2 separate regions of the Homo sapiens genome follow, and region 1 is linked to region 2. Evidence: fine-mapped expression QTL. A gene starts in region 2. The other region holds a variant in brackets. All regions are shown on one strand. Distances are between the middles of the regions.

Region 1 (16,052 bases), 430 kb before region 2:
ATCACCCGTCTTCTGCATCAATCACACTGTGAGCTGCAGGCCAGAGCTGTTCCTATTTGGCCAGCTTGGAATGGGAAAAACTCTTTTTTTTTTTTTTTTTTTACCCCATTTATTCCTTTATGTAGGAAGACTGATAGTTAAATGTCTAAAAGACAGACAACAGATAAAAGGCAAGAGAAAAGTAATTTTTTTTTATCCTGGCATCACAGGCTTAATCATGTCAAGTTTCAAAACAACCCCAGCAGTCATCTGACCCTGTTCCTGCAGTTACCTAGTGGAAGGGTAGTGTCAAGAGTGATAAAAGTGTAAGAATATTTACCTGTGGTTTCCTTCTTAAAATAAAGTGGAAGCCAGGCACAGTGGCTCACACCTGTAATGCCAGAGCTTTGGGAGGCCAAGGCAGGATGATCCGTTGCAGTCAGGGTTTCAAGACCAACCTGGACAACATAGCAAGACCTCATTTCTACAAAAATTTAAAAATTCGCTGGGTGAGGTGATGCATGCCTGTAGTCCTAGCTACTTGGGAGGCTGAAGCAGGAAGATTGCTTGAGCTCAGTTGTTTGAGGTTACAGTGAGCTATGATTGCTTAACTATACTCCAACCAGGACAACAGAGTAAGACTCTGTCTTTAAAAAAAAATTAATTAATTAATTAATTAATTAAAACAATAAAATAAAGTGAAGAAGATTCAAAGTTCCACTATCTACAGGTCTGTCAGGAGAAACAGATAATAGAGAAATGATAACAGCCGGTACCCACAGAGTGCTACTTACTACATGCCAGGTGCTGTCCTAAGCACTTTACATCTGCGAACTCATTATTCAGTTGAGGGAACTGAAAGAATCTTCGCTTTCAACCGTCAGTTATATTGCCTTTTCACAGGCAAGGCAATTGCAGTTATGTTGCAATTTTCAATTGCATCTGCAATCAGATGCAAAGGAATTGCTAAAGACTCAGTAGTTGAGGGCTATATTTTGAGCCAGGACCAAAGCAAAGAACTACTTTCATTTATAATAAGGGCCCAGATGCAGGAAGTAGACATCTCAGACAGTGTGGTGTGAGAGCAGTGTGGGATGGCAAAAAGAGGATCCAGGCCATCCTGGAAATAGTCCTTTGGCCACAGAAGTTAATTGTTACCATCAGTGCCTTAGAAAGTAAGAAGTAGTGACTGACATCAGGACTCCAAAACTGGGTAAAGTTCAGAATAGATGCAGTCATTCTTCTTTTGTCATCTTCACGAAATCCTGAATTATGAAATTCCTCTGGGAATATTTATATGTTGATACCTGCACAAAATAGACCCTACGTGATAATAATCATCTCTATTTTGGTGCATAGTTTTCTGTATTTCCTGTGTGCATGTGTGTGTATGTGCACACACGTGTTTGCGTGTGTGCATGTGTATGTGAGTGTATGTGTGTGGTGTGAATGTTTTCAATATGCATCAAGGGCCTGGACAATGTGATATATGCGTGTTTGTTACTTTTAATCTAGAAATAGGAATTTAGCATTTGAAGTGCCCTAATCAGGAATATACTCTCCAGGATAGGTTTGAAATGTTTTTCTCAGGTCTCCACATTCCAGAGGACCTGTTACAAGTGGTTTGACTATTGCTATCTCAATGTACTAGTTGTTAATATACTTTTAAAATGATAGAAATAGTTTTCAGTTGGCAAAATGTGCGATGTTTAAAATATGTGGATTAGCCAGGCACAGTGGCATGTGTGTGTGATCCTTCTCAGGTGTCTGAGGTGGGAGGATTCCTTAAGCACAGGAGGTTTTTGTCTGTTTTTGATTTGTTTTTGTTTTGTAGAGAAGGTGTCTTGCTATGTTGTACAGGCTGGTCTCAAACTCCTGGCCTCAAGAGATCCTCGTGCCTTGGCCTCCCAAAACACTGGGATTATAGGAATGAACCACCATGGCCAGCCAAGCCCAGAAGTTTGAATCCTGCCTGGGCAACATAGCAAGACCCCATCTCTAAGAAAATAAAATAAACTTAAATTTAAAAAATAAAATGTGTGAGGCCGGGTGCGGTGGCTCACGCTTGTAATCCCAGCACTTTGGGAGGCTGAGGCAGGCAGATCACGGGGTCAGGAGATCGAGACCATCCTGGCTAACACGATGAAACCCCATCTCTACTAAAAATACAAAAAATTAGCCAGCATGGTGGCAGGCGCCTGTAGTCCCAGCTACTCGGGAGGCTGAGACAGGAGAATGGCGTGAACCCAGGAGGCAGAGGTTGCAACGAGCTGAGACCACGCCACTGCACTCCAGCCTGGGCGATAGAGCGAGACTCCGTTTCAAAATAAATAAATAAATAAAAATAAAATAAAATATTTGGATTAATTAGCAATACTGTAGAAGAATCTGTGTCCTTATATGTATAGAAGTGCATAAAATTTATGAGCCCAGCAGCCTATCTATATCTTTCAGAGTGGTCTTTGTGGCTCAGGCTCTGATTTGGACCTGAAGATTCTGCTACCTATTCTGAATAGTAAGTGAGCTTAACTTGGCTCTAGAATATTATTGCATCTGCCTTGATTAATTCTTTCCTGCAAGATACTTGGCAGTGTGCCAATGGTGGAGACAACCAGTTTTCTACCAAATAGTCCATTCTCCTCTTCTTCTTAGGTGCTTGGCTACACCACCCAATCCAGCTCACCTAACAGATAGCTGTATTCATGTGGCTAAGTTTCACCTGATGGCATGTGAGTAGAAGAATGTATACCTAGATTTCTGGGCCTACACCTTAAGAACATGAATATGCCTATTCTGAGTTCTTGTTCCCTTCTTGCCATTTGGTTGGCTAGAACTTTGCTATGCAGACAACAAAAGGCCCAGAGAGTAGTGCAGAATCACGTTGGAAGGAACCTGAGCCCCTGAGTGGCTCATGAAGCAGACCACCTGCCACCTTGGAACATTCACCTTGGACTGTTGCTTTAAACCACTGTATTATTATTACAGCAGCTTTTCCTTATCTCATCCGATACAGTGCCTAAGGGACTGAGCTGAGCTTGTAAGAAGAGCACGCCTGCTTGCTAATGATTACAGCGGTAGCAGAATTCCATCTAGGGCTGGATACCAAGGTAACATGCAAACATTTAGTGAGTCTGGGGGGAACAGCAACACAAAGCCCTACCCTACCTCTTACTTTTAGAGGCCTTCAACATCTCCCAGTAAGAATCTAACAGGTGTTTAAAAATGCAGATTTTGTTCACAGCTAATATTATACACTACAGTGAAAATGGAAAGCCTTTCTTCTAAGATCAGAACAACGCAGAGATGTCCATTCTTGCCACCTCTATTCAACATAGTATTGGAAATCCTAGCTACAGCAATTAGGCAAGAGAAAGAAATAAAAGACATTCCCCAAATAGGAAAGGGAGAAGTTAAATTACACCTGTTTGCCAATAACGTGTCCTTATATATAGAAAACCCCAGAGACTCCACCAAAAAACTGTTAAGATAAACAAATACAGTAAAGTTGTAGGATCCAAAATCAACACACAAAAATCAGTACACTGAAAACTATTTAAAAAATAATTAGAAAAATAGAAGACACAAATAAATGGAAAGATAGCTCATGCTCATGGACTGGAAGGATTAAAGTTGTTAAAACGTCCATATTACCCAAAGTGATCTATACAATGGAATACTATTCATCTACGTCTGGGTGCCTTAGACTGCAGAATTATCTGCCCAAACCACTTGGAGCCTATTTACAGGGCTAGTACATTCTCTTTCCTGATTAAGTCCTCCTAAGGGCAGACTGCACAGCTGGAGTACACAACCCTAATGGCTAAGGATGCCCAGGGGACACACATTTTATGAAGTGGGTGTGGTTAGAGCTTAGCTATGCAGCATCAGGTGTCCACACATGTGTCCACAAAGCCCTTTGTAGTGTAGGATGGGGCATAGGTAGAAATAAAAGAGGAAATGCCCTCAGACCAGGGATGGGCAGCCAGGGAGCCAGCTGTCTCCATAATCTGGAGACCCCAAGAAGTCTGAGAATTCTAAATAGGAACCTGCCCTTCCAGGTTATTATAAAAGTGTATTTGTCAAGATGTGAGGGTAGAACATATTTTATTTAACAGTTCGTTACAAATATTTAGACCTGGCCGGGCACGGTAGCTCACACCTGTAATCCCAGCACTTTGGGAGGCACCTTTGCCCTAAGGGCCTTCAGCAGAGGCATTTCCACCAATGAACAAGTCATCAGTGTTACCCTGCGTCCTACTTACCATCTTTCCCTCCAACTCCAGGCAAGCCTGTCTGCAATCTCCCAAATCTTATACATGTTGAACTATTGTGGCTGATGATGCCAGGGTAGGTAATCATGAGAGCAGCTAAAGGGAGACCATGGTGTTGCTAACTTAGCAGAAGCCTGGAGCTCAGAGCGAGTGCAGGGTAGCCAGAGTGGCACTGGGTGGGGAAGTGGGTGGAAATGCGGGATTGCTTTCTTGATTTCTTTTTAATTAGTTCATCCTGGTTATATAGAAACTACCAATTTTTGTATATTGGTTTTTGTATCCTTCAACTTTACTGGATTTACTTATCATTTGTAAGACTTTTTTGGTAGTCTTTAGGTTTTTCTAAGTATAAGATCATGTCATCTGTAAAGAGAGACACTTTCACTTCTTTTCCAACTTGGATTATGTCCTTATTTCTTCCTCTTTCCTAATCGATCAGGCTAGGACTTCCAGCACTATGTTGAATAAGAATAGTAAAGGTGAGCATCATTGTCTTATTCCAGTTCTTAGAGGAAAGGCTTTTAGCTTTTCCCCAGGTGGTATGATGTTAGCTGTGGGTTTGTCATATATGGCTTTTGTTATTTTGAGGTATGTTTCTTTTACGCCTAACTTGTTGAGACGTTTTATCATGAAGGATGTTAAATTTTATCAAATGCTTTTTCTGTGTTTATTGAGATGATCATATGGTTTTTGTCCTTCCTTTGGTTAATGTATCACATTTATTGATTTGCATATGTGGAACCATTTTTTGCATTCCTGGGATAAATCCCACTTGATCATGGTGTATTATATTTTTGATGGTTGTTAGATTTAGTTTGCTAGTATTTTGATGAGGATTTTTACATCTATGTTCCTGAGAGATATTTTTCTCTCATAGTTTTCTTTTTTTGTGTGTCCTTGTCTGGTTTTAGCATCAGGTAATGCTGGCCTTACAGAATGAGTTAGAAAGATTTCCCTCCTCTTTAATTTTTTGGAATGATTTGAGAAGAATTAGTGTTAGTTCTTTATAAGCTTGATAGAATTCAGCAATAAAGTGATCCAGTTCTGGGCCTTTCTTTGTGGGGAGAGTTTTTATTATGATGTAATCTCATTATTGGTCTGTTGAGGTTTTCTGTTTCTTCCTGGTTTAATCTTAGAAGGTAGTATGTTTCCTGGTATTTAATCAATTCCCTCTAGGTTTCCTAGTTTTTGAGCATATAGTTGTTCATAATTCTCGCTGATGACCTTTTGCATTTCTGGTGTCTGTTGTCATGTCTCCTTTTTCATTTCTGATTATGTTTATTTGGATCTTATCTCTTCTTGGTTATTCTAGCTAGCAGTTTATCAATTTTGTTTTTCTTTGCAAAGAACCAACTTTTTGTTTCATTGATCTTTTGTCTCTTTCATTATTTATCATTGCGGTTTGGTGGTTTTCTGTAGTGGTAACATTTGATTCCTTTCTCTTTCTCATTTGTGTATCTGCTATGCCAGTGAGTTTTACAGTCTTATGTGTTTTCTTGATGGTAGACATCATCCTTTCTGTCATGTGTGTCCATGTGAAGAGACCACCAAACAGGCTTTGTGTGAACAACAAGGCTGTTTATTTCACCTGGGTACAGGCGGGCTGAGTCCGAAAAGAGAGTCAGCAAAGGGAGATGGGGTGGGGCTGTTTTACAGGATTTGGGTGGGTAGTGGAAAATTACAGTCAAAGGGGGTTTTTCTCTTATGGGCAGGGGCGGGGGTCACAAGGTGCTCAGTGGGGGAGGTTCTGAGCCAGGAGGAGGAATTTCACAAGGTTAATAGTTCAGTTAAGGTGGGGCAGGAACAAATCGCAATGGTGGAATGTCATCAGTTAAGGCAGGAACAGGCCATTTTCACTTTTGTGGATCTTCAGTTGCTTCCGGCCATCTGGATGTATATGTGCAGGTCACAGGGCATATGATGGCTTAGCTTGGGCTCAGAGGCCTGACACTTTCACTTCTAGATGAAGGACTCTCAAACATTTCTTGTAGGACTGGTCTAGTGGTGATGAATTCCCTCAGTTTAAAGTATTTCTTTTAAACAAATGAACACTTTTCTCTAGATAGTGAATCTAAATCTCCTCCAGCTTGTTCCATTGCAGATTGACTTATATAATTTGGTCTGAAGATAATTCATCTTAGAGAAGATGATGCACTCAAAACAGAGAAGATGTTAAGAGGCTTTTGAAACTATAAAGCAGTCCCACTGCTGTTGTCCGAGTTTATCAACTCTTTTGCAAATTATGTATGAGTCAACACTACTGCTTACCTGGCTTCTACTTTATGAGTAACAGCTAAATAAATGAGTCTAACTTGGAGAAAATCAATGTTCATTTTCTTTTGCAGTTGTCATCTGCAGCAGGACCTCACTTGAGTACTGCCTCTGAGCCTAGGTTCTGAAAGCTAGTTTAAAATTCCCTCTTTAAGTTTGTCTGCTGAATGTTCTGTGACAAATTCCCTTTCACGCACGTCCATGTGAAGAGACCACCAAACAGGCTTTGTGTGAGCAACAAGGCTGTTTATTTCACCTGGGTGCAGGTGGGCTGAGTCCGAAAAGAGAGTCAGGGAAGGGAGATAGGGGTGGGGCCGTTTTATAAGATTTGGGTAGGTAAAGGAAAAAGGGGGGTTTTTCTCTGGTGGGCAGGGGTGGGGGGTCACAAGGTGCTCAGAGGGGGAGCTTTTGAGCCAGGATGAGCCAGGAGAAGGAATTTCACAAGGTAATGTCATCAGTTAAGGCAGGAACAGGCCATTTTCACTTCTTTTGTGGCGGAATATCACCAGTTAAGGCAGGAACCGGCCATCTGGATGTATACATGCAGGTCACTAGGGATATGATGGCTTAGCTTAGGCTCAGAGTCCTGACATTCCCTACTTCATCTCTCATGCTGAATATAGTCCCTGCAGGATACTTTAATTTTTTGGAATGATTTTTAAAGATTGGTGTTACTTTGGTAATAATAATTGTTTTTATTTTGGTAAATATTTAACTTTAATCAGGTCTTCATTAGACTTAAACTAGTTGACTTCAATAGTCATGGAATGCCTTTAATATTCAAGAAAATAAAAAATAGGCTGGGCATGGTGGCTTATGCCTGGAATCCCAGCATTTTGGGAGGCCAAGGCAGGAGGACTGTTTGAGCTCAGAAATTTGAGACCAGCCTGGGCAACATGGCAAAATCCTATCTTTACTAAAAATACGAAAATTAGCCAGGAATGGGGGCATGTGCCTGTAGTCCCAGCTACTCAAGAGGCTGAGTGAGTATTGCTTGTGCCCAGGAGGTCGAGGGTACAGTGAGCCGAGATCATGCCACTGCACTCCAGCCTGGGTGACAGAGTGAGTGAGACCCTGTCTCAAAAAAAACAAAAAAACAAACAAACCAAAAACCAAAAACTAAAACAAAACAAAACAAAAACAAAAACAAAAAAACTCAAGAAAATAAAAACGAATATAAAATTCTAGAAGAATACTACAGCTCATATGTTAAATGTAAGTCAATAATAAAGTTTTTATGAAATGTTATCCCTTTTAAAAGAGTTCTTCTTATGAATATAGGTTTCTTAGTGTATATTTCAAGAATAAACAGTAAGACAGTTTGTTTCTGCCATCCCAAGCTACCTGAGATTAAAAACTATATTTTCTAAAATTGAGTTGCTGGCAAGGAATTTGTCTTATCATACTTATTCAGAATTTGTTTTTCTAGGCCAGTAATGCCTGTAATCTCAGCACTTTGAGAGACCAAAGTGGGAGGATCACTTGAGCCCAGGAATTCAAGCCCACCCTGGGCAACACAGCAAGACCCTGCCACTCCATTATTTTTTAAAATAAAAAATAAATAAATAAAAATTTGTTTTTCTATAGCCTAAAGAAAAATAATTGCCTCTGTTAACATTACATTTCCAAGAAAAATTGTCTGCAAATAGTTTAATTTTAGATGATTACCCCTCTCCAAGGTAGGGCTGGAAGGAGGATAAATTTGGCAGAGACATAGGTTGCACATACTGATCTCAGTTTCTGTTAGGTGCATATAAATAAAAAAAAGTTTCTTCATTTTATTAAAGCCCTATTTTTGTATCATTTTTAGTAATGTATATACCAACATAAATGCTTGATCTCAGTCTCTCCTGATAATTACAAATCAACATATCCAATGCTTAAAGTTACTGTTAAATTAATGTAGAATTGTCAGGTCTTCATTAGAAGTAGTAAGTAGAACACAGAGATTGGTCAAATTTTTCAGTACTTATACTTTTGAAAAAAAGAAAAGAGTATTCTATTCCTGCCAATTAGTATAGTCTTTACCCTGATAAACAATGTCAATATACATTATGATTTTAATTATAAACCCCCTGGAGACAGCAAGTATGTTTATATTTTATTAGTCATTGTACTTAAGAAGCCCCAAAGCTCTCTATTCCTAGTTCAGATTTTCTTTTGTTTGTGTGTGTTTTTGTTTTTTTTT[G/TTTTG]GATGAAGGTTAAGAGGAAGCTTTCTTTCTTACTTAAAGGTTTGTATGCTGGGCAGATAGTTAATGGTACAGAAATCCAAGCTTTATTTGGGGGAACAAGAGAGCAGACAGGACATAGAGGTCTTATTGGCAGAAGTGGCAAAGTAGGGGACAATCTTTCATAGGATCATAAAATTATAGCCCCCAAACACAATCTAGTGAAATCACCTTGTTTCTAAGAAGGTTTTCACAAAGAGCTAATACTAAAGAATTGGGGTTACAGAATACATGGTATTATCCATGCCAAATACAAACACATGGACATCTTTATTGGAGGAGAAATTTGTTCTGCTCAAGAGCATCTTAAAGATTTCTATTTCCCAGTCATTATTCTTTCCCACAATCCCCTCCCAATAATTAGTCCAGAGGTAGGTCTGGGTTCCCATGGTGGCAGGATATTCAAATATCTCAAGATGGCTCACCATGTCATGAATGACATCTTAATTAATCAGTCTTCAAACAGGGGACACAGTGAGAATAAGGACTCCATGTTTCCTGATCTCAAAACACACTTGAGAGTTAAGAGCATGGGAATGACACTTCTGTGAATTACCACTTGGTGCCTGTTCATTTTTCTCTTCTGAGCAAAGTCCTCTCTTGTGAAATTCTAATACTTTGCATAGAATATTCAGAATTTCCAGACCTCATCGTTGAAGATTTCTTTTGCCTTCACAGTCATAAATATGTTGTAAGATTTGTGTTCCCAAGATCAAAGACAGGTCTCACAAGGGGTCCCCTGCTCTACTACCAGGACACCAACATTTGTTCTTGGTGCATCTTACATCAGCAATCTTTGAAATTCATTAGGTGAGGTCCTATATCCTTTGTTGTATCAGTCATCATCCCCAGCACAGGTTAAACCTCAGATTTCTCCACTCTAAGTGTCCTTGCCCTCAGGGAGGGTGACAGGATGTGGGGTTTCTTTCCAATGTTTTAGGACACACTCATAGCAAAACATGTCCACATCCTGTTGCAATCAGTGTGGTCAAATAGTGTGGAACAAATCAGCCCTTCCTGATATCTTCTGCATCTGAGGCAACCGTGTCCCTTATATGATGTCTGTAGTCAAAGGTTAGACTAGACTAGACAAAGGTTGGTTAGAAAACCAACTCTCAACCACAGACCTTGGTAGTTTCACAACTGTTTTTAAATAATCTCTTACTTCCTCCTTCCTCTCCCTTATCAATGGGGAAATGGTGGGAGTCTCTGGAGCAGAAGCCATAAGCTAATGAAATGTCATGGGACTGGACACACTAATGTTAAGGTCTATGGGCTTTACATCCACAGTTCCAAAAATCTGTCATCTCAGAGCATTAGCATCCAGCTATTTTTTTTTTAGTTTTTGTAGAGATGGGGTTTCACCATATTGGCCAGACTGGTCTTGAACTCCTGGCCTCAAGTGATCCACCTGTGTCGGCCTCCCAAAGTGCCCTGAACCAATACGCCTGGCCAAGTGTGTCTCTCTTTAAATAACTCTCCCCCTTTTTTTCTGTTCCACATCATCCTGTTTGGAAGATAGAGATTTCATTTTGCAGCACTTCTCCCAAACACTTGTCATCTTCCCTTTGGGAGTCTCTGTCCAGGGAATCTTATTATTTAGGAAAAATTTTTAGATGTGTCTTACCAAAGTCTCGGATATATATCTAATGATGTCCAACTCTCCCTATCATGAACTCTAGAATAACCTGACCACTTTTGCCCATGGGTTTCTGTCACTTCTACTTTTCAGACTGGTTCCTTCCGGTGGCCAGCATTTGGTACTTCCTCTACTTTCTGTGAAGACTCTCATTTAGTTAAAAAAAAGAAAAAAAAAATTACTGATGCCGTGGAGCATAGTATTTGTAGATACAAAGGACCTCAGAGGTCAGCCCCTCTCACTTGTTATATGAGGCATCTAAAGTTCTAAGGACTGAGATGTTTGCCCAAGGTCATGTAGTTAATAAATATCATCTATATCAGGCCACTTCGTATGATTGGGCAGGATGTTTATTACCAAAAAGCAACCACCTGACGGGTGAGTAGGGACCAAAATCCAGTCTGTGCTCCTCTTGCCTTGCCAAGCTGTGAGTCCTGCTTAGGACTCTATGCCACACCCCACCACCAGAGAAAAAGGCCTCTCTGTGATTTTTATAAAGGCACTATTTGGCTAATAGTGACGCTAATCTATATGTAAACTTTTCTTCTAATTATCTCAAACCTAAGTGTTAGAAAAAAGTTAATTAGGAAGAAACTTTGCATTTTTATTTTAAAGGAATTAGTATCCTATAACTTTTATGTTCCTAACAATTCTTACATCTTTTTCAAATGCTATTTGTTAATTCTTAAGCAATCTTGGCATTCACAGATTGGGTTGTTTGTTTGTTTGTGGAAACAAGGTCTCACTATGTTGCCTAGGCTGGTCTCAGACTCCTGGGCTCAAGCAGTTCTCCCGCCTCAGCCCCCCAAAGTGCTGGAACAACAGGGATGAGCCACCATGCCTGGCCAGATTTGATCATTTTTGCTTCACCTACTCAAATTATGGGGATGGGGTACAGATTCATTTTTGCTTCACCTACTCAAATTATGGGGATGGGATACAGGTTCAGACTAGGGTCTCAGGATCCAGGACTCTGCTTGAGAATAAGAAGGGCTGGCCCAGGGTTATAGGGTGGAACCAAAGAGAGACTTATGCCCCCACCCACATAAGGGCAGCTTTCTGTCTGATACAAAGGACCTAGTCCAAGGAGACAAGAACTTAATCACAAGGGAAAAGTCTGGAGTAGAGGACAGGACAGAGAGTAGTTCAGAGGCAGACGCTGGAAAGATTTCCTGAGACAAAGGTTCCTGGGGAGTGTTCTTTTGTAGGGGCCTCCTGTGTGCTTTGGATAAAACTGGAAAGTCCAAAAGGCCTAGTCAGCCTGCAGAGCTCCGAGGCAATGCAACAATGCCACTGGAGGTCAAGAGGAGGCGATGACATCAGAGACCAATGACCTGGTTTCAGTGGGACAAAACACTGCAACAAGAGCCCAGCAAGTGCCCACTGGGCCAAACAAAAGCCCACTGTGAACCAGCCACAACACCACCAATGCCACGTGAGTGCATAAACTTTCCCTCTCCCCAAGGCCATCTTGGCTAAGGGAAGAGGAGAGAAGAAAATGCCTAAAACGCTGAGCATTTCCCCAAAAGAGATTAGGTTAACCCCAAAGTAGACTCTGGCTACCTTTACTTGGAAAGTTTATGTTTGGTGATCTACCTTCACTTCATCACTCTATCTCGCCATCAGAGGAAACGGGGCCTTCTGGACAAGAAGAGAATAGTTACAGAAAACAAGAAGGCTACGTGTTCAAGCTTTGAATTCAACTTAACCCCATTACACCTGGTCCCTCGGATCCCAGAGGACATGCTTTGCACATTATTCAGAAGTTACAGAGTTCAAATATAAACGTAGATGACTCTTTTGATGCCCTTGAGGTTGGCTTTTATGCATCAAAAAAGGTTATTCAGAGGTTACTTAGCTTTAAAAATTAATATTTAATTTACTAAAGTTACAACTTAAAAACTTCGCTTACCGCCAGGCATGGTGGCTCATGCCTGTAATTCCAGTACTTTGGGAGGCCAAGGCGGGCGGATCACAAGGTCAGGAGTTCGAGACCAGCTTGGCCAACATGGTGAAACCCCATCTCTACTAAAAATACAAAAATTAGCTGGGCATGGTGGTGCACGCCTGTAATCCCAGCTACTCAGGAAGCTGAGGCAGGAGAATTGGTTGAACCTCGGAGGCGGAGGTTGCAGTGAGCCAAGATTACCCCACTGCACCCCAGCCTGGGTGACAGAGCGAGCGAGACTCCATCTCAAAAAAAAAAAACTTCATTGACCTTAAGATTTAAGTTCAACTTAGAATTCTTGTTGTTCTTTCAGAAATATAGCAAATTTTAAAAGCACTTGAAGGGCCTAAATATGGTTTGGTTCCATTAACAAATGCTATTAGATAAACTCCTTAAAACCTCTTAAAGTGCATTTATAAATTTAACATTATTTATTTTCTTAATATCAATAATTATTCAATTTAATGTCAAAACTTTCCTGGGAACCTAAATAATGCATACAAATCTAGTAGATCAAACACATAAATATGGTGATTTTTAAGTTCTTAAAAGATCTTAGTAACAATCTGACTTAGAATGTAAGTCACTCCCTTTGGTGTTTAGGAAACACAAGACTGATCTCTAGTTTCAACAGACCAAATTCTCTTAAACATTGCAACTACTTACAGTAAGTAATGTACACATTAATACAAAAATATGAATACTGTAGATAATATCCTCTTAAACATTTCTACTCCTAAATCTAAATCTTCGCAAGGTTGGAATATGATTACCCACCATATTAGTTTGCAAGAACTGCTATGACTAAATACCACAAACTGGGTGGCTTAAGCAACAGAAATTTATTTTCTCATAGTTCTGGAGGCTGGAAAGTCCAAGGAGTCAGTAGGTTTGGTTTCTTCTGAGGCCTCTCTTCTTGGCCTGCAGAGACCAGCCTTCTCACTGTGTCCCCAGGTGGTCTTTCTTCTGTGTATATACATCCTTAGTGTCTATTTTTCTGTCCAAATTTCCTCTTTTTAAAAATTTTTCATTTTTTTTAATTTTTATTTTTTTGAGTTGGGGCCTTGCTCTGCTGCCCAGGCTGGAATGCAGTGGTGCAATCATGGCTCACTGCAGCCTCAACCTCCGGGCCTCAAGCAATTCTTCCCGCTCAGGTTCCTCAGGTGTACACTACCATGCCCGGCTAATTTGTGTATTTTTTATAGAGATGGGGGTCTCGATATGTTGCCCAGGCAGGTCTCAAACTCCTGCCCTCAAGCAATCCTCCTACCTCAGCCTCCCAAAGTGTTGGGATTACAGACATGAGTCACCAGCCCCACCCCAAATTTCTTCTTATTATAAGGACACCAGTCAGATTGGATTAGGACCCACATTAATGGCCTAATTTTAATTCAGTCACCTCTTTAAAGGCCCTATCTCCAGGCCAGGCATGATGGCTCACACCTGAAATTTCAGCACTTTGGGAGGCTGAGGTGGGCAGATCACCTGAGGTTAGAAGTTCAAGACCAGCCTGGCCAACATAGTAAAACCCCATATCTACTACTAAAAATACAAAAATAGCCAGGCATGGTGGCATGCACCTGTAGTCCCAGCTACTTGGGAGGCTGAGGTGGGAGGACCACTTGAACCCAGGAGGCGGAGGTTGCAGTGAGCCAAGATTGTGCTACTGCACTCCAGCCTGGTCAACAGAGCAAGACTCTGTCTCAAAATAAATAAAAAATAAATAAAGGACCTATCTCCTAATAAGTCCCATTCTGAGATACTCGGAGTTTGAGCTCCAACATATAAATTTGGAGGGGGAGACACAATTCAGCCCATAACATTCACCAGGGAGACCATTGTGTCAACCCAACAATTTGAGAGATGCCTTTCCAGGACAATTCCTTGCCAGGAGGATGACTGAATGTTGCTGGTGACCTTGATGGAACATACAGAGCCCTCCTTAGAGTGATTCTCAAGGGGTGGTCCTGTAGCCCTTAGAGTCCACATAGTCTACATCTCTATTTCTTACTTTTGCCTCATTACAGAGGACCACATCCCCATCCAGTCTGCTTGGTCAGCGTCCATATTTCTGCAAGTCTTTAATATAGTGTCTGTTATCTAGCTCTGAAGACCATGAGTTAGATGGAATTTTGCAGTTTTTCTATATCCTTCTTTCCTGGTAGAATCACAAAACTCTTTTAGATATTGAATTTATTTCTTTCAAACCTTTTATTCTAATAAAGGCTGAAAGAAAATACAATAGACCCATATATCCTTTGCTCAGGTTCAATGGTTGTTTGTTAACATTTTACCATATTTGCTTTCTCTTTCTCTCTCTCTGTCTCTCTCTTTCTCTCTTTCTGTCTCTCTCTCTCTCTCTCTCTCTCTCTGTGTGTGTGTGTGTGTGTGTGTGTGTGTGTGTGTGTGTGTGTGTGTGTATGTCTATGTGTCTGTCTGTCTATATTTGGCTGAGCCTTTTGAAAGTACATTGTAGAAGTCATGACACTTGCCAAGCGTGGTGGCTCACACCTTTAATCCCAGCACTTTGGGAGGCCGAGGCAGGCAGATCACGAGGTCAAGAAATCGAGACCATCCTGGCCAACCCACACGGTGAAACCCCGTCTCTCCTAAAAATACAAAAATTAGCTGGGCGTAGTGGCACATGCCTGTAGTCCCAGCCACTTGGGAGGCTGAGGCAGGAGAATCGCTTGAACCTGAGAGGTGGAGGTTGCAGTGAGCCAAGATCACGCCACTGCACTCCAGCCCGGGCGACGGAGCGAGACTCATCTCAAAAAAAAAAAAAAGACACTTCACCTATAAATATTAATACATTAATCTTCTCCTAGAAATATAGACAGTCTCATACATAAACAATACCCTTTTTATATCTAAAAATTAATAGTAATTTGATAATATCCTCTAATTTACAGTTTATATTCAAATTTCACAAATCCCATAAATGTCTTTTATAGGTGTGTTTTTCCAGAGCAGTATCCCATCATATATTTGCATTTGGTTATTATATCTCTTTAGTTCCCCTGCTTTTTTCCCCATAAGATTGGAATGCTCCATTAGGTGTTAAGGACACTGTTTGAGCACTTGGTTAAGATGGTGAGTGCCAGGTCTCTCTATGGTAACAGTTCTTTTCTTTTTGCAATTAGTGAACAATCTGTGGAGTGATTCTTTGTCACCATCGGGAAACAGAAAGACAGACGATATATAGATAGATCCTGGAAAAGTTCTTTAGTTTTCTTTACAAAAATAGCCAAAGAATTTATTGAGACTTCGTAAGTGTTAACATCTTCATTTTATTATACATAATTCAAGGTGCTGTTTCTCAAATGTGGGTAAATATATCCCCAGAGATATGCTGTAGAAGGCTGAGTTAGGCAAAGTGCACAGGACAGATCAGAACTTACAGGAATTATTTTATGTGGTGATATTAACACAATGTAAAAACGCTTTCATGCTGAGACAATTGCAGATATATTAATGGAGTAAAATGTAAATCCACACATATTTTTTAAATGAAGCATGCAAATTCAAAGAAAATTTGAGCTTAGGGAGTTTAAAATAGGCTGCTTTGGACTATTTCCCTAACCTCCCAGAAGTCCTTTTCTACTTTTCTGTCCTGAAGAGGATGGTCATAGGAAAGTGTGAGAAGTGCTGGCTTTAGAGAACATATCTGTATTTTGTCCCTGAGGAACTGGTGGGAACCTCTCTTCTAGAGTATCTAAA
Region 2 (15,505 bases):
CCCTTCAAAGCACGCCAATCCTGGCCCTGCTAGAATTCATTCCTTCAAGGTCTGAATCCCTGTAGCCTACCCAGTTATGCCTCTCTTCACAGTCTGGGACCCCCAGGAGCATCCTGGCTTTCTGGCCAGGCAGGTTATTACAACTGCATTCAGTCCATCTGTCTAGAATGATTAAAAAAATAGTAATAAAATAAGTGGTTCACACTAATTTAGGTACCAAACTCTACAAAGTTCTATTCCTGTGAAATGTGTGGTATTATCTCCATTTTGCACATAAAATACTGATGTTGAGATTATTTGGCACTTTGCCTGGAGAGGATTACCAGCATAGATCTGTCTTAATTCCCATAATATATAGGATGAAACTGAAGATCTGAAAGAGACTCATTGTCCCCAAATCACACAGTACTTGGATGTGCCAATTCAGAGTGGGAGGGCCAGACTTCAACCCAGGTCTTTTTTTTATTGTTAATTTTTAATTTTTGTGGGTACATAGTGGGTATACATGTTTATGGGGTACATGAGATATTCTGATACAGGCATGCAATGCATAATAATCACATTGGGGTAAATGGGGTGTCCATTACCTCAAGCATTTATCGTTCTTTGTGTTACAAACAATCCAGTTATACTCCTTTAGTTATTTTTAAATGTACAATAAATTATTATTGACTGTAGTCACCTTGCTGTGCAATCAAATACTATACATATATATATATATATATTTTTTTTTTTTTTTTTTTTTTGAGACGGAGTCTCGCTCTGTCAGCCAGGCTGGAGTGTAGTGGTGTGATCTTGGCTCACTGCAACCTCCGCCTCCTGGGTTCAAGCAATTCTCTGCCTCAGCCTCCCGAGTAGCTGGGATTACAGTTGCTCGCCTCCATGCCTGGCTAATTTTTTTGTATTTTTAGTAGAGATGGGGTTTCACCATCTTGGCCAGGCTGGTCTTGAACTCCTGACCTGGTGATCCACCCGCCTTGGCCTCCCAAAGTGCTGGGATTACAGGCATGAGCCACTGCGCCCGGCCAAATACTATATTTTATTCATTCTATCTAACTATATTTTTGTACCCATTAACCATCCCCCTTTCTCCCCTGCCACACTATCTTTCCCAACTATGCTTCCCTTCCCTGGTAGCCATTGTCCTACTTTCTATCTCCATGAGTTCAGTCATTTTAATTTTTAGCTCCCACAAATACATGACAACATGTAAAGGTTGCCTTTCTGTGCCTGGCTTATTTCATTTAACATAATGACCTCAAGTTCCATTCATGTTGTTGCAAAGGACAGGATCCCATTCTTTTTTATGGCTGACTAGTACTCCATTGAGTGTATGTACCACATTTTCTTTATCCATTCATCTGTTGATGGACACTTAGGTTGCTTCTAAATTGTGCTGCAATAAACATGGGAGTACAGATACCTCTTCCATGTACTGATTTCCTTTCTTTTGGGTATGTACCTAGCAGTGAGATTGCTGGGTCATATAAATATATTTATATTTTATATTTTATATATTTATATTATATAAGCATACTTATAAACATATATACAATAAATATTTCTGGAATATTCTATGAATGAATGGGTGAATAAACCTTGAATGCAATGCTTCAACCACTTCACATTTTTAATTAAACTATTAATTTTGAAGTAATTATTTATTCATATACAGTTATAAGAAATCATAGAGAAATTATACCTTTTACTCAGAGTCCTCAATGATATTATTAATAATTTCCATTTCCACCAACAGTGTATGAGGGTTCTCTTTTCTCCATATCCTTACCAGTATTTGTTATTGTCTGTCTTTTGGATAAAAGCCATTTTAACCGAGGTGAAATAATATGTCATTGTAGGTTTGATTTGCATTTCTCTGATGATAATGTTCAGCATTGTATCATATACCTGTTGGTCATTTGTTTGTCTTCTTTTGAGAAATGTCTGTTCAGATCTTTTGCCCATTTTAAAATCAGTATTTTTTTCCTGTGGAGTTTGAGCTTCTTATATATTTTGGTTATTAATCACTTGCCAGATGGGTAGTTTGCAAATATTTTCTCCCATTCTGTGGGTTCCATATTCACTTTATTGGCTGTTTCCTATGCTGTGCAGAAGCTTTTTAACTTGATGTGATCCCATTTGTCCACTTTTGCTTTGGTTGCCTGTGCTTGTGGGATATTACTCAAGAAATCTGGCTGGGTACAGTGGCTCACGCCTGTAATCCCAGCACTTTGGGAGGCCAAGGTGGGCAGATCACCTGAGGTCAGGAGTTTGAGACCAGCCTGGTCAACATGGTGAAACCCTGGACCCTACTAAAAATACAAAATTAGTCAGGTGTGGTGGAGCACACCTGTAATCCCAGCTAGTCAGGAGGCTGAGGCAGGAGAATCGCTTGAACCCAGGATGCAGAGGTTACAGTAAGCCAAGATTGTGCCATTGCACTCCAGCCTGGGTGACAAGAGTGAAACTCCATCTCAAAAAAAAAAAAAAAAAAAAGAAGTCTTTGTCCAGTCCAATGTCCTGCAGAGTTTCTCCCAATGTTTTCTTGTAGTACTTTGATAGTCTAAAGTCTTAGATTTAAGTCTGTAATCCATTTTGATTTTTTATATAGTGAGAGATAGGGGTCTAGTTTTGTTCTTCTGCATATGGATATCCAGTTTTCCCAGCACCATTTACTGAAGAGACTGTCCTTTTTCTAATGTATGCCTTTGGCACCTTTGTCGAAAATGAGTTCACTGTAGATATATAGATTTGTTTCTGGGTTCTCTATTCTGTTCCATTGGACTATGTGTCTGTTTTTATGCCAGTGTCATGCTGTGTTGGTTACTATGGCTCTGTAAATCAAGTAATGTGATTCCTCCAGTTTTATTCTTTTTGCTCAGGATAGCTTTGGCTTTTCTGTGCCTTTTGTGGTTTCATGTACATTTTTAGGACTGTCTTTTCTATTTCTGTGAAGAATGTCATTGGTATTTTGATGAGGATTGCATTGAACCTGTAGATTGCTTTGGGTAGTATGGACTTTTTTTTTTTTTTTTTTTTTTTTGAGACGGAGTCTCGCTCTGTCGCCCAGGCTGGAGTGCAGTGGCGCAATCTCGGCTCACTGCAAGCTCCGCCTCCCGGGTTCCTGAGCCATTCTCCTGCCTCAGCCTCCTGAGTAGCTGGAACTACAGGCGCCTGCCACCCCGCCTGGCTAATTTTTTGTATTTTTAGTAGAGACGGGGTTTCACCGTGTTAGCCAGGATGGTCTCAATCTCCTGACCTCGTGATCCACCTGCCTCGGCCTCCCAAAGTGCTGGGATTACAGGCATGAGCCACCGCGCCCGGCCAGTATGGACATTTTAACAGTATTGATTCTTCCAATCCATGTACCTGCAAACCCAGGTTTTAGACTGCCAAACCTAGGTCATTTTCACAAGATTGTGATTTTGTCCTGTAGACAAAATCTGCATTTTTTTGAGAAATGCATAGATCTGAGAATCATTGTAAATTTTTAACTTCAAGAATGGATCTTTTCTTGCTCTTTCCTCCCTCCCTAAAGCCTGCATTTTCTCCACAGGTTCTTGCTCTATCACCCAGGCTGGAGTGCAGTGGTACAATCATGACTCACTGCAGCCTTGACCTCCCAGGCTCAGGTGATCCTCCCACCTCAGCCTCCCAAGTAGCTGGGATTACAGGTGCATGCCACCACACCCAGCTAATTTTTTGTATTTCTTGTAGAGACAGGATTTTGCCATGTTGCCCGGGCTAATCTAAAAGTCTTGGGCTCAAGTGATCCACCCACCTTGGCCTTCCAAAGTGCTGGGATTACAGGTGTGAGCCACTGTGCCTGGCCAAAATACAACCTTATCTAAGTGCTAGGTGTTTTGCTAGGCTCACCCCCATATCTAAGCCTATTCTTAGGCTATTATCCAAGTGGGAGTCTCTGCAAAGTCACCTATCTTCCAGGGCCTTGTTTGCTGCCACCTCCTCCACGAAGCCCTCCTGATCATACCAGACCACATGCCTCATCATGTTTCTCTCTCACACACAGTTTTTGTAGGTAGCATTAACATATAATACTTTCTGTCTTCTTTCTATCCTCTCTACCAGAAGCAACTTCTACTCCAAGGTATGCACTGCTGGCCAGAATCCAGGAATTCTGGCTGTGATGGTCTTGTCCTCATACATCTCAGAGCTGCTAGTTTTGTATTTAGAATCTTCTAACTGTTCATTGACATTTGAAAGCTGTTACTTGTCTTTCTTTAGGAAGTCCCCTTGGGCACCCAGCTCACAATCTTCTCCAGCTAAATCTGGATGCAGCCTGTGATTTCAACCCCCTTTGGAGGTCCTGTCCATAATACTTCATCTTCCTCATTTCCAGGAACTGCCAACCCTCCACTATAATCCTGTGGCCTCACCTTGGAGCTTATCGTTGGAAACTCTTTCACAACCATAGGTCTCAAGTCCCAGATCCCACTCTTGGGGCATAATGGCCATTACTTCATTTATTTTCATTCCCTAATAAACAGATTTTCTCTTCAATTTCTTCAAAACCTTGGTTCCCTTGATTCCTCCACTGTCTATAACATCTTAGCTTCCTTCTAGTCATATTTCCTCAAGTACCTGGATCCTTTGTCCTCCCATCAAACCCACCCTACAACTTCAATATGGATATTCCATCAGACTGCTGAGGGATGCTGTGTAACCACAACTGTGCAGACTAAGCCAGTTTAAGCTTGTGGCAACCATTCTTAGTTGGGCCCTTAATTAGGCCAGGCAACCTTTTAAATGTTCTTGATCAGCTTCCTCTCTCATTTTTCTCAACAGCTTTTGGAGGCCTTCATCACTTTTTCCCAACTCTTTACCAAATTCCCACTCTGCTTGTCCAGCAGACACCTGATCTTCCCTTCAGAGCAAACAGGCCATCATGGCACCCTCCCTTACTTTATTGGCCCACTCTGTAAGCTCCCTTCATCCTCATTTCCTTCCAGTCTCCAATGAAAAGCTGTCCCTCTGCTCTAAGTTAGCCCAACCATCTGCTCACCTGATCCCATCCAGCCCTAGAAAGCACACACTCAACTTTGCTTCTCTATCCCTCTCCTCTTTACTGCCAAGCATCTAGGAAAATTAACTTACATATGCGTTCCATGCTTGTCTCCTCCCTCTTGTTCTTAAAGTCACCTCTGTGCAAGGTCTGTTCCCATCACTCGTTGAAAAGTCCTCAGCAAATGTCAGCCATGACCTTTGTATACAGTGTGCTCTTCATTTCCCTTCTTTCCTGGCCTTTCCATAACATTTTCGACATTGCGAATCCTGCTCTCCCACACTCTGCTGATTCTTCCACTTCTCTCATTTTCCCTTCTCAGTTCACACCACTGGCTTCTTTTTCTTTGCTGTGTTCATAAATAGTGTTTCACTAGGATTCTATCCTGAGCCCTTTTCTCTTCTTACCTTTCCTGGCCAACTGTTTCTACTGACATGGATTTTACTATATTGAACCATGACTAAATTGTTATTTTCAGCCTAGACTTTTTGCCAAGCTCCAGGCACCTATATATTCAAAAATCCACCCAAAGTTTCACTTGAATGTCTAAAACAGGAATTCATTTTCTTCTTTAATTTATTTCTTCAGTTCCTATCTCAAAAATGATTATGATTATGGTGATAATATTTACTAATTCCTTACTATGTGCCAGGCACTGTTCTAATCACTTTATGGATATTGACTTTAGTTGTCACAGGAATACTATAAGGTAGGTATTATTCTCACTTTACAAGAGAGGAAATAAACACAAACTTAGTATTTCAGTGAGTGACATTGTCCTTCACCTGAATACCCAGTTCAGAGACCCAAAAAGAATCTAGATTTTTCTTCCTCCTTCTTTATGTTTAATCCAGCATCAAATCTCTTTGACTCTTCCATTTGAGTTTCTCTGGCTTGATTCCATCTTCTCTATTTATTGTTCTCCAGAATCTGTGCCCTTGCCTTAATTCAGGCCCTCATCATTGCTCAACAGATTCTTAAAATAGTGTCCTAACTGATCTTCACACCTTCAATCTTAGCTCTCTGCACCCCCAATACAATCATTCCCCACTCTCTTCCAGAGTGGTCTTTCTGCAGTGCAAACTTGATCCCAGTACTGTGCTACATAAAGTCTTTCTGTGGCTCCCCTCACCTACCTCATAGCTCTGTCTGCACGGCACTCAAGACACCCACGTACCCTCATCTGCTGCCCACTGCATGGCATTTCAGCTTCATCTCCTACGCTTCCCTACTTTCACTTCAGATATTCCATATACCTCCCTGAATGCCAAGTGCAAAAACTTTACTTACGCACTTTTCTCTGCCTGGAATATCCCCTACCATTTCTTTGAACTATTCATACTTCAACAGTGCTGTCTTACATGACAGCCATTAGCCATATGTGGCTACAAGCACTTGTCGTTAATCTGAATTAAGGTGTGTCGTGTTGTTAAGTGGAAACATGGAATTTTGAGACATAGTATGAAAAAAGTATAAAATGTATCAATAATTTTATACTGATTTTACATTGAAAAGATAATATTTTGGATACATTGAGTTAAATAAAATATATTATTAAAGTTTTTTTCTGTTTCTACCTTTTTAATGTGGCTACATTACAATTACACATGTGGCTTGAATTTGAGGCTCATGATATATTTTAATTAAACAACAATCTTTCAAAATCCTTACCCAGTAAACTTAACCAATGAGGCAAAATAACTGTACACTGAAAACTACAAAATGCTGCTGAGAAATTAAGGAAGACATAAATAAGTGAAAAGACATGCCATGTTCATGGATTGGAAGACTTAATATCATTAACATGAAAATACTAATTAAAGTTATATACAGGTTTACTGCAATCCCTATCAAAATCTCAATATCATTTTTGGCAGACCTAAAAAGATCCTAAAACTGGTATGGAATCTCAGTAAGCCCTGAATAGCCAAAACAATCTTGAAAAAAAAAAAAAAAAAAAGAGAACAAAGTTGGAGGTCTCAAACTTCCTGATTTCAAAACTTCCTGATTTCAAAGCTACAATAATTCAAACAATGTGGTACTGGCATAAAGACAGACATACAGACCAATGGAGTGAAATAGCCGAAAAAAAAAAAAAAACTCTCATATATACGGTCAACTGATCTTCAACAGGGGAGCCAAGACCATTCAATGGGGAAAGGATAGTTTCTTCAACAAATGGTGCTAGGAAGACTGGATATCTACACATAAAAGAATGAAACTGGGCATTTATCTTCTACAATACACAAAAATTAACTCGAAGTATATTAAAGACCTAAATGTAAGTTTTATAGCTAAAACTATAAAACTCTTAAAAGAAAATATAGAGGAAAAGCTTCATGACACTGGATTTGGCAATGATTTATTGGATACGACACCAAAAGCACAAGCACAGACAATATAAGTAAAAATAGATAAACTGGACTACATCAAAATTTAAAATGTCAGTGCATCAAAGAACACAATCAACAGAGTGAAAAAGGAAACCTACAGAATGGAAGAAAATATTTGCAAGTCATATATCTGATAGGTTAATATTCAGAATATGTAAAGAACTCCTACAACTCAACAACCACAACAACAAAAACCTTATTTAAAAATAGAGGACTTGAATAGATCTTTCTCCAAAGAGGGTATACAAATGACCAACAAGCACTTGAAAAGATGCTCAATATCACTAATTATTAAGGGAGGGCAATAAAAACTACCATGAGATATCACTCCTTACCCACTAGGATGGCTATTATCTAAAAAACAGAAAAAGTATCAGTGGGGATTTGGAGAAATTGGAACCGCTGGGCACTGTTGTTGGAAATATGAAATGGTGCAGCCACTATGGAAAACAGTATGACAGTTCCTCAAAAAATTAAACATAGAATTACCATAAGATCCAGCAATACCACTTCTGGATATACATATATATACCGAAAAGAATTGAAAGCAGGTCCTGAAGAGATCTTTGTACACCCATGTTCCCAGCAACATTATTTCCAGTAGCCAAAAGGTGGCGCAACCCAAATGTCCACTGTTAGATAGATGAATGGATAAACAAAATTCATATCCATACAATAGAATATTATTCAGTCTTAAAAGGAAGGGAATTCTAACACATACAACCTGGATGAGCTTTGAAAACATTCTAAGTGAAATAAGCCAGTCACAGAAAGACAAATCCTCTATTATTTCACTTATATGATGTATCTAGAGTAGTCAAACTAATTGAAACAAAGTAGCACAGTGGTTGCCAGCATCTGGATGGAGATTGAAAGGGGAGTTTAATGAGCATAAAGTTTCAGTTTTGCAAAATGATAAAGTTCTGCAGATCGGTTGCACAGTAATGTGCATATATAGTTAACACTACTGAACTGTACATTTAAAAACGGTTACAGTGGTAAATTTTGTTACATACATTTTATGTTACATGTATTTTACCACAATTAAATATTTTTTAAAAATCCTTCCCCAGGTATCACTCCCCCTCCTCCCTGCTTCTGTGTGAATTAACAACTCCCTCCTTTGCACCTCTACATTATCTTGCGTATACCACCATTATGGCTCTTATTACATTTTTGGTAATTACGTGTTTGACAGGATAAGGGTTACTGTCCCATTTGCCCCATCCTGGGACAGGTGAATACTTATCCACTCCTGGGGTCCTGACTAGAAGCTAGGAAAATATACTAGGGTCTTTGGCAAGACAGAGAAAAGAGGCAGTGACCCCTATGGCATAATTGGCTAAAGAGGACCGTCGTTATCAGCAAGAATATATCTTGGATCTTGTAGATGTTTCACTCTGAGGCTGGACCTGGAAGGACCATTTTTCTTCAACAATCCTTTTATAGGCAGGCTCTGACAAACCTAAGTAACACTTCTTTCCTCCCTCAACACACAAAAACATCTTCTCCATTATGAGGACAGCCAGCTGAAATGACTGGTCATACCTGGTCTGACCCACAGGAGGGAAAAGAGAAAGATGTTCATTCAAGATGGATTCAAGGGCCGGGCACAGTGGCTCACGCCTGCAATCCCACCACTTTGGGAGGCCAAGGCTGGCGGATCACAAGGTCAGGAGATCGAGACCATCCTGGCTAACGCAGTGAAACCCCCGTCTCTACTAAAAATACAAAAAAAAAAAAAAAAAAAAAAATAGCCGGGCGTGGTGGCGGGCACCTGTAGTCCCAGCTACTCGGGAGGCTGAGGCAGGAGAATGGCGTGAACCCGGGAGGCAGATCTTGCAGTGAGCCGAGATCAGGCCTCTGCACACCAGCCTGGGCAACAGAGCGAGACTCCGTCTCAAAAACAAAAACAAACAAACAAACAAAAGATGGATTCAAGATAGAACAGCTGACCTAATAAGGTTCTCAGGGGGGACAATAAGGAACTATTTTTGCTTCCCTTAGACTCCTTGTATGTAAGTTTGATACCTAATTAAATTTTTTTTTCCGATAATGGACTGTAACTTTCTGCCCTTCCAAGGTCATAGTCAAGAGGTTACATTTGTTTGCTCCATCTTTGCTTCTAGATGGGAGCTCCTTTAGGGGCGGGACCAGACTTTATTCATCCTTGGATCCCCTGTGCCCACTGGTCCTGGCACATAGCAGATGCCCAATAAATGCCAAATAAATGACTGAATGTTTAGAATGAGGGTCTTTACAGCATTGAGCCTTTCCAATAACCCGGAGAGAGGCTTTTGGCCGAGCAACTAGTCTACCCCAGAGAGAAAGGACAGTCTGAACTAGAGAGCCACAGGGAGTAGGAAGGTCTGCTGGGTATGGGGAGCAGAGGGAGCATGAGAAGAAAACGTGGTTCATTACATAGCCCAGGTTGAACAGACAGATGAAAATCGCACCCTCCAGCTTCATGTTCCACTGTCTGACTGGTCATTATATAGGGCCGACATTTATCTGGTCTCCAGGCAAATTCTATAATTTCAGCTCCGTCTGAAGCAACACAGTAACACTGACTCAGTGGCCTAGATTCCACAAGTGCCACATACCTTGCTTTAGCTTAAATCAGGCATTGTTTTGTCTGGCTGCTAGGACTGGCTCAGGTCTGCTAACAATAAGATGCTTATGCATGGCCCTTTCATGCAGTCAGTCTTTTAAATTTTTTTGCCTCTCTTGAAATCCTGGAAATGATTCCTAACAACGGTTAATCTAAAAATCAGCTGGTTTTGGTCAATATAATGGCGCCCCTTCGAACTCACATTCATGGAATATGGAAGCTGGAAGGAAGAGTAGAAACTAGTTCTGCTTCTCAGGTAAGGAAATCCGTGCCCAGAGAGTTGGGCTGGGTTCCAGCCAGTTAAAACTAGAACTCAGAGATGCTGTCCCGAGCCCTTTTACTTCTGCTGCCTGCCCGCAATTGCGGTCACACCTGCTTCAGACACTTCCAGCTCAATCCTCCCTCCATTTTCTGTGCAACTAGGGTCCTCTCTGGAGAGCTCTTAAGCCATCAGCTCTAGGAGAGAAGTGGGCAGACACAAATCTTTCACAGGTTAATTTTCCTTGGAACATTCTGGGTGATTTTTTTGTAAAGCCCGATTCTCAATGGTGTTGATTTCAGGGTAGTGTTCCTCACTGAGAGCTAAGGAGGCGTTGCAGAAGTGCGCTGATTAGCTAGAATTGACCATAAACAGAGTGGCGCGGCGGATGGGCAAAGGGTGGGCAGCGAACTGGCCCAAATCATCTGTGCATCACCTCACAAGCACCAACTGAGCACTTACTGTGTGCCTGGGTAATCCACAGCTGCCTAATTAAGAACGAGCAGCTGCCTTCCAACCCTCCCCTGGCCCGAGGAGCCCTACTAACTGGCAGATTGAGGGACTTCTGATTCTCATCGTGGGTCTGGCCTTAACTAGGGTCGCGACTCCAAGCAAGTATTTAAAATTCTCCAACCCAGGTGGCCTGAGGCTTGAGAAGAAATAAAAGGCTTCTCAAAGGGATGACAGTTTCGGGAAGTTTTTTTTTGGGGGGGGGACTGGAAAAATACCATAAAAGGCATTTTGGGGGTCACACACACACAAGAGCAGAAGCGCTGTGAGCCGCCCTGCAGGCTCCCTGCCCCGGGAGCCACCTTCCACCCGCCCCCGGGCGGAGGCGGCCAACTCCCGCCCAGCGGGCTCCCCAGTTCGGCCCCGAAAAGCCGAAAGGGGGGCGCCTTTGTCTATAAGCGCCGCACGGGCGCTCCTGATTGGCTGTAGCTAAGCAGGGCTTTCTTCCGCGCTCCTTCGGAGCGCTCCCTCCAGCGTCGCCGGCCCCGTTCCATTTTCACAGCTCCTCCTCCCCGGCCGCGCGCCCCTCCCGCCCCGCGCGCGCCTCCTCTTTCTCGCGGCCGAGTTCAGCCCGGGCAGCCATATGGGGGATACGCCAGCAACAGACGCCGGCCGCCAAGATCTGCATCCCTAGGCCACGCTAAGACCCTGGGGAAGAGCGCAGGAGCCCGGGAGAAGGGCTGGAAGGAGGGGACTGGACGTGCGGAGAATTCCCCCCTAAAAGGCAGAAGCCCCCGCCCCCACCCTCGAGCTCCGCTCGGGCAGAGCGCCTGCCTGCCTGCCGCTGCTGCGGGCGCCCACCTCGCCCAGCCATGCCAGGCCCGGCCACCGACGCGGGGAAGATCCCTTTCTGCGACGCCAAGGAAGAAATCCGTGCCGGGCTCGAAAGCTCTGAGGGCGGCGGCGGCCCGGAGAGGCCAGGCGCGCGCGGGCAGCGGCAGAACATCGTCTGGAGGAATGTCGTCCTGATGAGCTTGCTCCACTTGGGGGCCGTGTACTCCCTGGTGCTCATCCCCAAAGCCAAGCCACTCACTCTGCTCTGGGGTAAGTCCCGCCGGCGCCCCCTGCGCCCCGGCCTCCGTGGCCAGGCCGCGCTGGGGCGCGCGAGGTCGCCGCTCGCCCCTCGGCTGCGGGCGGTGCGCAGCGACCCCCGGTCTCCCCTCGCCTCCCGCTGCGCGCCGCGGCCCCCTTGGCATCCAGTTTTCCGTCCCTTGGGACGGGCAGGTGTTTCTGTCCCAGTATTTCAACTTCCGCCCCCCCCCCGCCCCCACCCCGCCGCGGTCTGCCTGAGGAAGCGCATTTGCCGGCTTCCCGATGGAGAGCCGGGGGGGACCCGGAGTCCTGCGGTGCCACCGCTGTGCGCAGAGGCGCGCGAAGGGAGAGGCTCGGCACAGGCTGAATCGGCTCCCAGCGAGGGAGGACGGGCGGGCGATTGTGTCACCTCTGCGGTCCCTGGGGCTCTCCTATCCCCCCCATCACCTCCGCGGGTCACGGACCTTGGGGACAGAGATGAGGACAAGTAAGGGAGTTGGACCGGGGAGGAGAGACCCGGCACAGGATAGAGTCTTGGTTTACGCGCACCAGATGGAAGATACCGGTTCCCCTCTTGCCTCTCCAAGGCCCCTGTCCCTGCCCCCTCCGCAATCTTCTATGCCCATTTGCAGTTCTCGGTGAAGTTTCTCGGTGAGCAAACCGATCCCATGGCGAGAGCGGTCTGACCCTAGCACGAAGCTCCGACTGTGGCTGTGCAGAGCCTTCTCCAAACCCTGTTCCCATGTGGCCAGTGGGAACCTGTGGCTCTCCTGGTACCCTCCTTCCGTGCACCCCCACTCCTGCCAGTAGGGAAGGGAGCCCGGGCGCCGACCACCATTCCCCTTCCCCTGGGCCCCAGGGACTGCGTGCCCACCCTACACGACCCCAGTCGTTGATCTTTGAACCACTTCGCAGCCGCCCTGGCCGCAATAACTGGTTTTGGCCTCCTTTACTGAAGCGGCAGTAGCCAGGACAAAAGGCACAGGCATTGATATGCTGAGTGAGAATTTGACGAGGTAATCCAAGATGCCCTTCCAGCTCCCGTTTCCCTGATCTCTAGGGGCGGGCAGGAGAAACACAACCTACTTTTATTTCCAGAGGGGAAGAGGAAGGAAGAAAATAAGACCTCTTTCTACAGGGCTTTTTTGGCATGGTGCCAGCTGCAAATGCCTAGGTAGATAATGGGGCCACTATGGTTCCAAGCCTTCCCTTGAAATCCTGCAGTCCCTGCTCTTGGAAGTAAACCCATCCAGAAGTGGGTACCTCTTAGGGGGTGTGGCTCAGGGAGGGCATAGCAGAGTTGACGGATGGTGAGAGAGGTAGGATCTTTGGGGATCCCTAAAGCCTTTAAAGTCTCCCCAAAGCTCTGGGAAATCTCCTGCTTCATCTTTCCTTCTCTCAGTGCACCTCCTCATTTCTGTGTCCTTTTCACCATCACCTTTATGTGTTGGTTTAATTCTCCAACTGACTGTAGACTGTATGATGTTCAGCTGTTGCTTCATCAACACACTCCGACACTGCCAACCAAAGCCCTTATTGCCCAGAGTTCTCCAACAAGCTCCTCTCTCCCCCCTGCTTCCAGAGGCAGGGCTGGGCTTGGTCCTCAGAGCCTGGTGACCTCTAGGGGATTGAGGCTTATCTTTAATAGCTGTGGTGTTCAGAGAGTGCTCAGGGAAAAGTGAGCACTTAAAATATTATCTTACATGCCTAGGGCTCACTGGCTCCACTTCTTACAGCCTCTGAGCCCCAAGACCCTGGCACTGGACCAGGAGCCACAAGGACAAGGCCCCTCTCTCCAAGTTTGCCAGGTCACCTCTGCCCTTTCCGGACCGCTCTCTGTGGTGAAGATAGAACCTTTGTTCTGAAAGATCTTGGCTTAGAGGACACCTCCCAGGCCCCAGTGTCCTCTAGCTTCCTTAGAGAAGTTAACACACTGAAGGAATCTGGTTTCCCCTTTGTGACTCATGTCCCAAACCCCATTCCATACCTTCCTGGATAAATTCTGCCTGTGCTTCATCTGCTATTTCCTAAGTCTTTTTTTTTTTTTTGAGACAGAGTCTCGCTCTGTCGCCCAGGCTGGAGTGCAGTGGTGCGATCTCGGCTCACCGCAAGCTCCGCCTCCTGGGTTCACACCATTCTCCTGCTTCAGCCTCCCAAGTAGTTGGGATTACAGGTGCCCGCCACCACGCCCGGCTAATTTTTTGTATTTTTAGTAGAGATGGGGTTTCACCGTGTTAGCCAGGATGGTCTCAATCTCCTGACCTCGTGATCCACCCACCTCAGCCTCCTAAACTGCTGGAATTACAGGCGTGAGCCACTGCGCCCGGCCCGTAAGTCTTAATTCTCTCCCCACCTTCATTGCCTCCCTAAAAAAAAAAATAGCAGACAATGGTAGATATTAGAGTTTTAAGGTCCAAAATTGTGACTTAGAAACAGTCCAAACAATGGGTCTTATCTGATGAATAGCTACTGCCTCTGCTGCTTTTTTTTTTTTTTTTTTTTTTTTTTGTGAGACAGGGTCTTGCTGGAGTGCAGTGGCACGATCATAGCTCACTGCAGTCTCAGTCTCCTGGGCTCAAGCAATGCTCCCACCGCAGCCTCCCAAGTAGCTGGGACTACAGGTGTGCACCACCACACCTGGCTATTTTCTTTTTCATTTTTTTGTAGAGATGGGGGTCTCACCATGTTGCCCAGGCCGGTCTTGAATTCCTGGGCTCAAGCAGTCCTCCCAAAGTACTGGGATTACAGGCGTGAGCCACTGTACCCAGTCTCATGAATAGCTTTTGAGGGAAGAAATGAGGGACAATCAGAGACCAGCTAAGATCAGCTGTGCTGATGGCTAGGCTACATAGTAAGCAGAGGGACGAGGCAGACCACTGACTCAGGGTTATTTTCAGTGAAAGCCCTGGTGCCTTGATCCACAAATTTCCCCCCACTGAAGGCCCTTTTTCACCACCTCCCTACTGGTTATGTGTAGCATTAGGGCCAAGTTCATGCCCCAGTGGGCTGCTCATGCACTTCAAGGACCTGACTTGTAGAGGAAATAGGCTTAGCCTGTCCATTGCTTGCCACCCTCCACACCAGATGAGGTTGTGCTGGAAACAAGAGGCATCTATGCAGTGCACCCAGCAGGGGATGTGTTGGATGTGCAGTGTGCAGAGAGTAATTTGTGTGGTGGTAAAATGTCATCCGTGAAAGAGCCATCAAATTGTTAGTTCATCAAGTTGTTAGTTCTCCTTGGGGCCAGAGCATGTTGTTTTCCCTTTTTATCCTTTTCGTTTTATGAGTGGGCAGGCTGTCAGGACAGAATGCTCTTGGTGCCCCCAGGTCCTCAGCAATGCGTTCATGACTTTCAAGGACAGAAAGCGGCCGGGCATGGTGGCTCACGCCTATAATCCCAGCAGTTTGGGAGGCCGAGGCGGGCTGATCACAAGGTCAGGAGATCGAGACCATCCTCGCTAACACGGTGAAACCCCATCTCTACTAAAAAAAATACAAAAATTAGCCGGGCGTGGTGGTGGGCACCTGTAGTCCCAGCTACTCGGGAGGCTGAGGCAGGAGAATGGCGTGAACCTGGGAGGTGGAGCTTGCAGGGAGCCGAGATTGCGCCACTGCACTCCAGCCTAGGCGACAGAGTGAGACTCCGTCTCAAAAAAAAAAAAAAAAATGGACAGAAT

Alleles and levels. Positions count from the first base shown, and alleles are read on the strand shown. Sizes are in standard deviations (SD) of each study's normalised expression.
In carriers of allele TTTTG in region 1, the expression in NK cells of the gene that starts at base 11,350 in region 2 tends to be higher than with G alone (large effect, 1.2 SD a copy in Gilchrist 2021).

The links. PIP is the estimated chance that this variant, and not a neighbour inherited with it, causes the effect. A credible set is the group of variants that fine-mapping cannot tell apart.
Region 1: its variant is the best candidate, but not a certain one, in a credible set for the expression of SCD5 in NK cells (Gilchrist 2021, PIP 0.55).

Annotation. Positions count from the first base shown.
Region 1 is chr4:83,225,556-83,241,607 of GRCh38, reverse strand. No RefSeq gene overlaps it. Among named protein-coding and RNA genes, the nearest start is that of COQ2, 51 kb to the left of the region's middle. RefSeq lists an enhancer at 6,019-6,068. The variant G/TTTTG (reference allele first, on the strand shown) is at 8,710.
Region 2 is chr4:82,794,641-82,810,145 of GRCh38, reverse strand. SCD5 (stearoyl-CoA desaturase 5) reads left to right here and starts at 11,350. Exons shown (of 5, transcript NM_001037582.3): 1 at 11,350-11,840. The coding sequence starts at 11,609. RefSeq lists enhancers at 10,192-10,908, 10,909-11,626, 12,603-13,124 and silencers at 10,995-11,414, 11,745-11,794.